Linked DNA regions of Homo sapiens: region 2 is reported to be linked to region 1. Evidence: microRNA targets listed by miRTarBase, many of them from high-throughput screens and not tested one by one. Region 1 holds a microRNA gene; the other region holds the end of a gene's coding sequence.

Region 1 (4,000 bases):
CTCAGCCTAGAAGTGGAGCCAGGCGTGGCTGGCAGGGAGGGGTGGGCAGGCCCCTTGAAGGCCCAGGCCTCAGGCTGGCAGTGGTCAGGGAGAGTGACCCGACGCTCCATGCCCACCCAGCCCAGGATCGTGGCCAGGCTGAACCTGACCTCCCCTGACCTTTTCTGGCTCGTCTTCCGATACGTCAACCGGGGGGCCATGAGTGTGAGCGGGCGGGTCTCTGTGCGAGAGGAGGGCAGGTCGGCCACCTGCGCCAACTGTGAGTGGGGTCCCTGGGCCACAGCCCCTGCCCCACCAGCCCAGCCCACCCCACCCCACCCCACTCCCAAGCCCCGCCACCTTCCTCTGGCTCATGTGGGTGGTAGGACCAGCCTATCCCCAACCCTGTAGGGGGTGCAGCCTGGGGTGGCCCCAAGGGCTGGGCTCAGGAGTCTCACCCCTGCCCCCGCCCAGGCACAGCACAGAGTCAGCCCGTGGCCTTCCCACCCAGCACGGAGCCTGCCTTCATCACCGTGCCCCAGAGGGGCTTCGGAGAGCCCTTTGTGCTGAACCCTGGCACCTGGGCCCTGCGTGTGGAGGCCGAAGGGGTGCTCCTGGTGAGGCAGGGGCCAGAGTGAGGGCTGGGGGCCGGGTCAGGGGGTGGGGCCCACCACTCTCAGCACCACCTCCACCCTGCAGGACTACGTGGTTCTGCTGCCTAGCGCATACTACGAGGCGGCGCTCCTGCAGCTGCGGGTGACTGAGGCCTGCACATACCGTCCCTCTGCCCAGCAGTCTGGCGACAAGTGAGGGCCATGCGTGCGGTGGGACCGGGGTGGGGGCTTCCTGGACCCCCACTGTGCCTGGCTTCCCCCACTCAGGCTGTCTCTGGGGACCTGGGTGGACCTGGGGCTGACCACGGCCTGTGTCCCCCCAGCTGCCTCCTCTACACACACCTCCCCCTGGATGGCTTCCCCTCGGCCGCCGGGCTGGAGGCCCTGTGTCGCCAGGACAACAGCCTGCCCCGGCCCTGCCCCACGGAGCAGCTCAGCCCGTCGCACCCGCCACTGATCACCTGCACGGGCAGTGATGTGCGTGTCCTGGGACCCCACGGAGCAATGGGTGTTGCAGGACCTTGGCCTGGGGGCTGGGGGTCCTGTGGCGGTGGCAGGTTATAGGAGCAGGGCGCTGCCTCAGGCAATGGAGCCCAGCACCCAGGCAGGGCGCCCCTGCCTCCTGCCTCCTGCCTCCTGCATGTGTGACCTCAGTGCCTGTCTGTATGTAGGATTGGCTGTGGCCTCCACATACAGCTCAGCCCCCACCACTTGCCTGGAGATGTCCGGGCCAGGGTGGGACTCGGCTGAAGGGCAGGCCCTGGGGTCAGGGAGGCGCTGGAGTGGGAGGGGAGGGAGGTGGGAAGGGCGAGGGGTGGCGGGCCTCCCGTCACCCTGCCTTCCCTGCAGGTGGACGTCCAGCTTCAAGTGGCAGTGCCACAGCCAGGCCGCTATGCCCTAGTGGTGGAGTACGCCAATGAGGATGCCCGCCAGGAGGTGGGCGTGGCCGTGCACACCCCACAGCGGGCCCCCCAGCAGGGGCTGCTCTCCCTGCACCCCTGCCTGTACAGGTGAGTGGGAGCCGGTGGGGCTGGAGTAAGGGCACGCCCGGGGCTGCCCCACCTGCTGACCACCCTCCCCCCACAGCACCCTGTGCCGGGGCACTGCCCGGGATACCCAGGACCACCTGGCTGTCTTCCACCTGGACTCGGAGGCCAGCGTGAGGCTCACAGCCGAACAGGCACGCTTCTTCCTGGTAAGGACCCCTCAGGTCCCCACCCCAAGGGGTCAGCTTCTTTCAGAAGATTTGAAACATGCATGAGAGGGGAGAGGACAGTTGGGGTCCCAGGTCCCCAAGGCGGCCACACTCGCTCATGCCCAGCCCAGCATGTTTCTTCTGGAACCCCTCCTGCAAGCGTTTTGTGGATTCAGTCCCTTTTGACGTACCCCCGAGCTGTTCCATGTGCTCAGGAAAGCACCTGCAGTCACAGCTCCCTGGCCCCAGGGCAGCCACCTCCTGGCACAGACAGCGTTGGTTGCCTGTTCTGGAACTTTCTTTTCTTTTTTTTTTTTTTTGAAATGGAGTCTCACTCTGTCGCCCAGGCTGGAGCGCAATGGCAAGATCTTGGCTCACTGCAACCTCCACCTCCTGGGTTCAAGCGATTCTCGTGCCTCAGTCTCCCAAGTACCTGAGACTATAGGCACTCACCACCACGCCTGGCTAATTTTCGTATTTTTAGGAGAGACAGGGTTTCACCATATTGGCCAGGCTATTCTCAAACTCCTGACCTCAGGTGATCCGCCCTCTTGGGCCTCCCAAAATGCTGGGATTACAGACAGGAGCCACCATACCTGGCCTGGCACTTTCTATAAATGCCACACAACATGTTCTGTGCAGCCGCGTCTCCCACCGTTGTGTCAGCGGATAAGTTGCCGTGTTCCGAGACACCAACCTCACATGGCCGCACGGAAAGGGAGCACCCATTTGCGGCTTGTGCCTGCTGAGTGCCTGCCTGGGTCAGGTCCTGGGAGAGCTGGGCCTGGCCCGGCCTGGTGGCACCAAGCAGCACTCGAGATAAGAGTGGGGGAACAGTGACGGATGGGAGGGCGAGGGGGAGGAAGAGGGCTATGGGAGGAGCCGCATAGGCCTGTGGGCCCAGGAACTGGCCAACACGCTGGTCTGCGGTTGGGGTTTGTGCAGCTGGAGGAGGAGCAAGGGCATCTTGGAAAGAGCAGGGCTCGGTCGGACGCCTGGGTTTGCAGTTTCCTGGGTCTGAGCTGTGTGACCGGCCCCCCCATCGTACCGCCTGCACCCCCCATCGTACCGCCTACACCCCCCCATCGTACCGCCTGCACCCCCCCCATCGTACCGCCTGCACTCCCCATCGTACCGCCTGCACCCCCCCATCGTACCGCCTGCACCCCCCCATCGTACCGCCTGCACCCCCTATCCTCCCCGCACCACGGGCGTTGCAGCATCTCGTCCCTCTGCCTGCAGCACGGGGTCACTCTGGTGCCCATTGAGGAGTTCAGCCCGGAGTTCGTGGAGCCCCGGGTCAGCTGCATCAGCAGCCACGGCGCCTTTGGCCCCAACAGGTAATGGCAGGTAATGGGGCTGGGAGGGGCGCGGCCGAGGGCCCGGCGGCAGGGCCGGCTCTGACTCACCCACTGTGCTCTCACCAGTGCCGCCTGTCTGCCCTCGCGCTTCCCAAAGCCGCCCCAGCCCATCATCCTCAGGGACTGCCAGGTGATCCCGCTGCCGCCCGGCCTCCCGCTGACCCACGCGCAGGATCTCACTCCAGCCATGTCCCCAGCTGGACCCCGACCTCGGCCCCCCACCGCTGTGGACCCTGATGCAGAGCCCACCCTGCTGCGTGAGCCCCAGGTGAGGGCCATAGTCTCTAGAGGGACGGGGGTGTCAGGGCAGGACTCCGGGTCCCAACCCAGGGCAGGTTGTCCAGGGGGCAGCAGGGGCTCATAGCTCAGCCTGCTCACTAGGGCCTATCCCTGCAGGCCACCGTGGTCTTCACCACCCATGTGCCCACGCTGGGCCGCTATGCCTTCCTGCTGCACGGCTACCAGCCAGCCCACCCCACCTTCCCCGTGGAAGTCCTCATCAACGCCGGCCGCGTGTGGCAGGGTGAGTGTCTGGTGTGGGGGGTGGAGAGGCTACCACACACGATGAGGCTGGAATGCCGGCGCCACAGCGTGGCCTGTGCTACCTGCTATGAGCGACAGGCAACATGACTCTGTCCTGCCATCAGTTCTCAAACTAGCTGCCCTTGCAGCCCGCAGCCCCTACCCGCCCGCTCCCGTTCCCAGAAAAGCCTGGGTCTCGCCTCTGTCTCGTGCGTTGGGAAGCCCCGTTGTGCTCCATGGCACGTGGCGAATTGAGGGCTTGCCCCAGGATGCCGCTGGCAGCACATGTGGCCCTGTGTGTTTGTCTGGTTCCTGGCTCGGCCAAGCCT
Region 2 (4,510 bases), not on the chromosome of region 1:
AAGATGAGCACGACAGGGTTGCCAGGGCCTCCTGTGCAGAAAAGGCCGTGGGAAACAGTGCCTACCACCAGTACCCTGGCCAAGGTAGGGGGACTCTCTCCTGGTCAGCTGGGATTCGCCCACAGCTTCTGGATCCCTGGCTGTCATCAAGGATGATGCCCGGGTGGCCTGATGCACCAGCATACATCAGGGCATCTCGGGACACACAGGAGCTTCCCCTCTGACCTTACGTGTGCATATGTGTGCTTTTTTTTTTTTTTTTTGGACAGGATCTTGCTCCATCACCCAGGCTGGAGTGCAGTGGTGCGATCTCGGCTCACCGCAGCCTCAACCTCCTGGGTCCAAGCCATCCTTCCAGATAGCTGGGACCACATGTGCATGCCACCCTGACTGGCTATAATTTTTTATTTTTTTATTCTGTTTCTGAGACCAAGTCTCACTCTGTTGCCCAGGCTGGAATGCAGTGGCACGATCTCATCTCACTGCAACCTCCGCCTCCCAGGTTCAAGTGATTCTCCTGCCTCAGCCTCCCAAGTAGCTGGGATTACAGGCACCCGCCGCCATGCCCAGCTAATTTTTGTACTTTTTAGTACAGATGGGGTCTCACCATCTTGGCCAGGCTGGTCTTGAACTCCTGACCTCAGGTGATCTGCCTGCCTCAGCCTCCCAAAGTGCTGGGATGACAGGCGTGAGCCACTGCACTTGGCCTTATATATATATATTTTTAGAGATAGGGTCTCGCTATGTTGCCCAGGGTGGTCTTGAACTCCTTGGCTCAAGTGATCCTCCTGCCTCGGCCTCCCAAAGCACTAGGTTTAACTGACATGAGCCACTGCGCCCAGGCTGGTGTGTGCTTTTATTTAAATTGTTCCGCAGTCCTATTTGGTTTGTTTCCTTTAATTAAATCTCAAATTTACAAGAGTCCAGACTGTCTGGACAGCCCAACAGGGACACAGAGAGTTTTACACACTGATGTCTCAACAGCACAGGGTTCCATCGGGACTTCGTGAGAAAATCAGGATCCATGTACGTTCTTGAAGAGCTGTCTCTCGGCCTAAGATAAGTGGAGAAGGTTGCCTTGGAAGCGTGGGGTAGAGGTAGGAACAGCTGGCTCTCTGGCCAAGGCCTTTGGCTTTTTCGCGGAAGCAAAAACCGAACCACGGGAAGGCTGCTCCGAGTCTGGGGTCAGAATTTCCTATCAGTGAGTGCAGCAGGCCAGGGAGAGGCGAAAGGGAGTGGAGAGGACTGTGGTGAAAGGGAGAGGGGCGGCCCCTGCACAGCTTCACCAGGCGTCAGTGCAGGCTCAGACGGCCGGACTGGCGAGTTTTCAAGAGAAACTCCAAATCCAGACAGGTGTGTGTGATCTCTTGGTTTTAAATGCAGACAAATTCCAAATGTCTCAAATACTGAATGGAGCCAGCTAGACCTACCTTCTCACCAAGTAAGGCCCACAGGCCCCTGCCGCAACCTCTACCCTCCACAGACAAGGTTCTGCAAAACAGTCATGGGACCTTGTTTCACCTCCCCCACAGGCACCCAAAATAACCTTCCTGACCTGCAGCAGCATTTTGCAATCTTTGAGAACCCCTGCCCCCTGCTGACAAACAAAAATGGCAAATAGACTCCCCCACACCACGCCTCCACGCCCTGAGCTGAGAATCGCCCGCATCTCGTGGGTGGTACCAGAGCCAAGACGACAGCCAAGCTTTGCTTTCTCAGCTCTGTCTTATAAAAGCAACATGGTTGGCTGGTTGGTTGCTGATTCTCCAAATATGAAATCACGATATTACAATGTGCACACTTTGTGAGGCCGAGGTAGGTAGGTCGCTTGAGCCCAGGAGTTCGAGACCATCCTGGGCAACATGGTGAGACCTTCTGTCTACAAAAAATACAAAGATTAGCCGGGTGTGCTCGTGCACACCTGTAGTCCCAGCTACCCGGGGCTGAGGTGGGAGGATCACTTGAGCCTGGAAGGAAGGGGCTGCAATGAGCCGAGATTTCACCACTGCACTCCAGCCTGGGTGACACAGCGAGACTTTGTCTCAAAACAATAAATAAATAAAATGTGCACACATCTCAGGTGGGTCCCCCCTCACCCCTGGGAGGTGGGCACGCTCCGTCCCCTCCCATGTGGCAGTCCCTGGATTGGAGCAGTTTCCCCTCCCGACCCAGGGCAGAGGTCTCCAGCTTCACGGAGGCATCCTGGCTGAACGTGCCAGCATTCACTGGAGCCTTCTTGAGTGGGGGCTTCCAGTACCACATCCTGTGGACTGAGGGGCTTCACGCACATTTATTCTCATTCAGTTCTCTGGGCCGCAAGTCTGAGATGAAGGTGTGGCCAGGGCTAGGTCCCTCCAAGGCTGAAGGGGATCTGCCCTGGGCCTCTCCCAGCTCCTGGTGGTGGCCGGCATCATTGGCCTTCCTTGCATGCATGTCTGTGTCCAAATACTTTTTTTTTTCTTTCTAAGACAGAGTCCCACTCTCACCCAAGCTGGAGTGCAGTGGCATGATCATCGGTCACTGCAGCCTCTTAACTCCTGGGCTCAAGTGATCTTCCCTCGTCATCTCTCAAGTAGCTGGGATTATACGTGTGCACCACCACAGTCACTTTTTTTTTTTTTTTTTTTTTTTTTTTTGAGACGAGTCTCGCTCTGTCACCAGGCTGAAGTGCAGTGGTGCAATCTCGGCTCACTGCAACCTCCGCCTCCCTGCAACCTGCGCCTCCCAGGTTCAAGCGATTCTCCTGCCTCAGCCTCCCAAGTAGCTGGGACTACAGGCACGCAACACCATGCCCGGCTAATTTTTGTATTTTTAGTAGAGACGGGGTTTCACCATGTTGGCCAGGATGGTCTCGATCTCTTGACCTTGTGATCTGCCCGCCTCAGCCTCCCAAAGTGCTGGGATTACAGGTGTGAGCCACCACGCCCGGCCCACCACGATAATTTTTTTTTTGTAGAGACGAGGGTCTCACCATGTTGCCCAGACTGGTCTTGAACTTCTGAGTTCAAGCAATCTTCCTGCCTCGGCCTCCCAAAGTGCTGGAATTAGAGTAGTGAGCCACTGCACGTGGCCTCAATCCCCCACTCCCCCGCTTCTTTTTTTGAGACAGAGTCTTGCTCTGTCACCCAGGCTGGAGTGCAGTGGCACAATCTCGGCTCACTGCAACCTCCTCCTCCTGGTTCAAGTGATTATCCTGCCTCAGCCTCCCGAGTAGCTGGGACTACAGGCATGTGCCACCATGCCCAGCTAATTTTTTGTATTTTCAGTAGAGATGGGGTTTCACCGTGTTAGCCAGGATGGTCTCGATCTCCTGACCTCGTGATCCGCCCGCCTCAGCCTCTCAAAGTGCTGGGATTACAGGCGTGAGCCACCGCGCCCTGCCCCAGGCCCCCTTTTTTTAAGGACCCCAGTCCTTGAATTGGGGCCCACCCTACTCCAAGATGAGATCATCTGAACTAATTCCATCTGTAATGATCCTATTTCCAAATCAGATCATCTTCTGAGGTCCTGGGGGTTAGGACGTGAGTTTATGGAAGGGGGGGTGCCGCGACTTGCCCCCTAACACTTCCCTTCCCCCAGTTCACCGTGTGAACCCGTAGTCCTTGTGCGAGGGATGAAAATCCCAGGCGACATGATCCAAGTGGGAGGCAGCAGCTTTTGGCTTTTACATCAAGCGACCCAGGGGTCGGCGTGGCCCAGAAAGTACAAACGGGTGAAAGGTGGTCCCCAGAGTAGGGCCCCAAATTCCTCTCCCCATTGGGCGGGGGCCAGGAGGAGAGGTGACATTGGTGTTTGAAACAGCTGCTACAGATGCCTCAGCATCCTCTCAAAGGAGACAGGTCACCCATCTGTCTAGGGGAGTTTGGCCGGAGTCCGATTGGGAGAAAAGAGGTGGAAAAAAACCCACAAACCCCACCCGCGCCCAGCAGGAGAGCCCCAAAAGGCGCGAGGGGCGCGGTTGGGCGGCGCCGGGGTTCAGAGGCTGCCCTCGTCCAGCATCCGGCCCAGGCCCTCGCAGATCCTGCGCAGGTGGGAGCGGTAGGGCTCGGCGGGGCCGTAGAGCGCAGCCAGGAAGTCGCAGTCGGCTAGGTGGCCGAACACGTGGTTGATGCGGCCGTGGGACTTGGCGGTCAGGTGGGGACCCACGGCCTGGTGCAGCAGGTCGCGGCACTCGAGCAGCCCGGCGGCCAGCACGCGCCGGTCGAAGGTGAAGTCCACCTGGTGGAAGCTGACGGCCGTCATGGCCAGGCAGCGCGCCCGGTGGCGGAAGCGCCGCAGCAGCGCCAGCTCCTCACCGCCCAGCTGGTCCCCACGCAGCAGCAGTCCCAGCTTCAGGGCCACCTTGACCAGGTTCTTGAGCATCTTCTGGGCCTCCTTGCGGCTGCGCGTGAACTCCCTGGTGGCGCGGTACAGCTCATCCAGCACCTCACTGCTGGTGTCATCCACCAGCACGGCCACCACTGCCTTGGACGCCATCTTACTCAGGAGCTTCTTCTGCGCCTGCAGAGCC

The links. The annotated mature microRNA hsa-miR-4758-3p reads UGCCCCACCUGCUGACCACCCUC and lies in region 1 at 1,648-1,670, shown strand. An mRNA with a match to its seed (bases 2 to 7 or 8) in the 3' UTR can be bound and repressed. Matches are read on the target gene's strand: a 7mer-m8 pairs with bases 2 to 8, a 7mer-A1 pairs with bases 2 to 7 and ends in A, and an 8mer does both.
Region 2: the mRNA of TNFAIP8L1 is a reported target of hsa-miR-4758-3p. Seed matches in the 3' UTR shown: 7mer-A1 at 3,379-3,385.

What each region holds. Positions count from the first base shown.
Region 1 is chr20:62,330,160-62,334,159 of GRCh38, reverse strand. MIR4758 (microRNA 4758) reads left to right here and starts at 1,603; the gene lies at 1,603-1,673. LAMA5 (laminin subunit alpha 5) reads left to right here. Exons shown (of 80, transcript NM_005560.6): 23 at 121-259; 24 at 454-596; 25 at 679-785; 26 at 917-1,070; 27 at 1,443-1,603; 28 at 1,680-1,788; 29 at 3,031-3,128; 30 at 3,216-3,417; 31 at 3,546-3,672.
Region 2 is chr19:4,651,896-4,656,405 of GRCh38, reverse strand. TNFAIP8L1 (TNF alpha induced protein 8 like 1) reads right to left here. Exons shown (of 2, transcript NM_152362.3): 2 at 838-4,510. The coding sequence ends at 3,976. Among named protein-coding and RNA genes, the nearest start is that of TNFAIP8L1, 15 kb to the right of the region's middle. RefSeq lists a silencer at 1,625-1,674.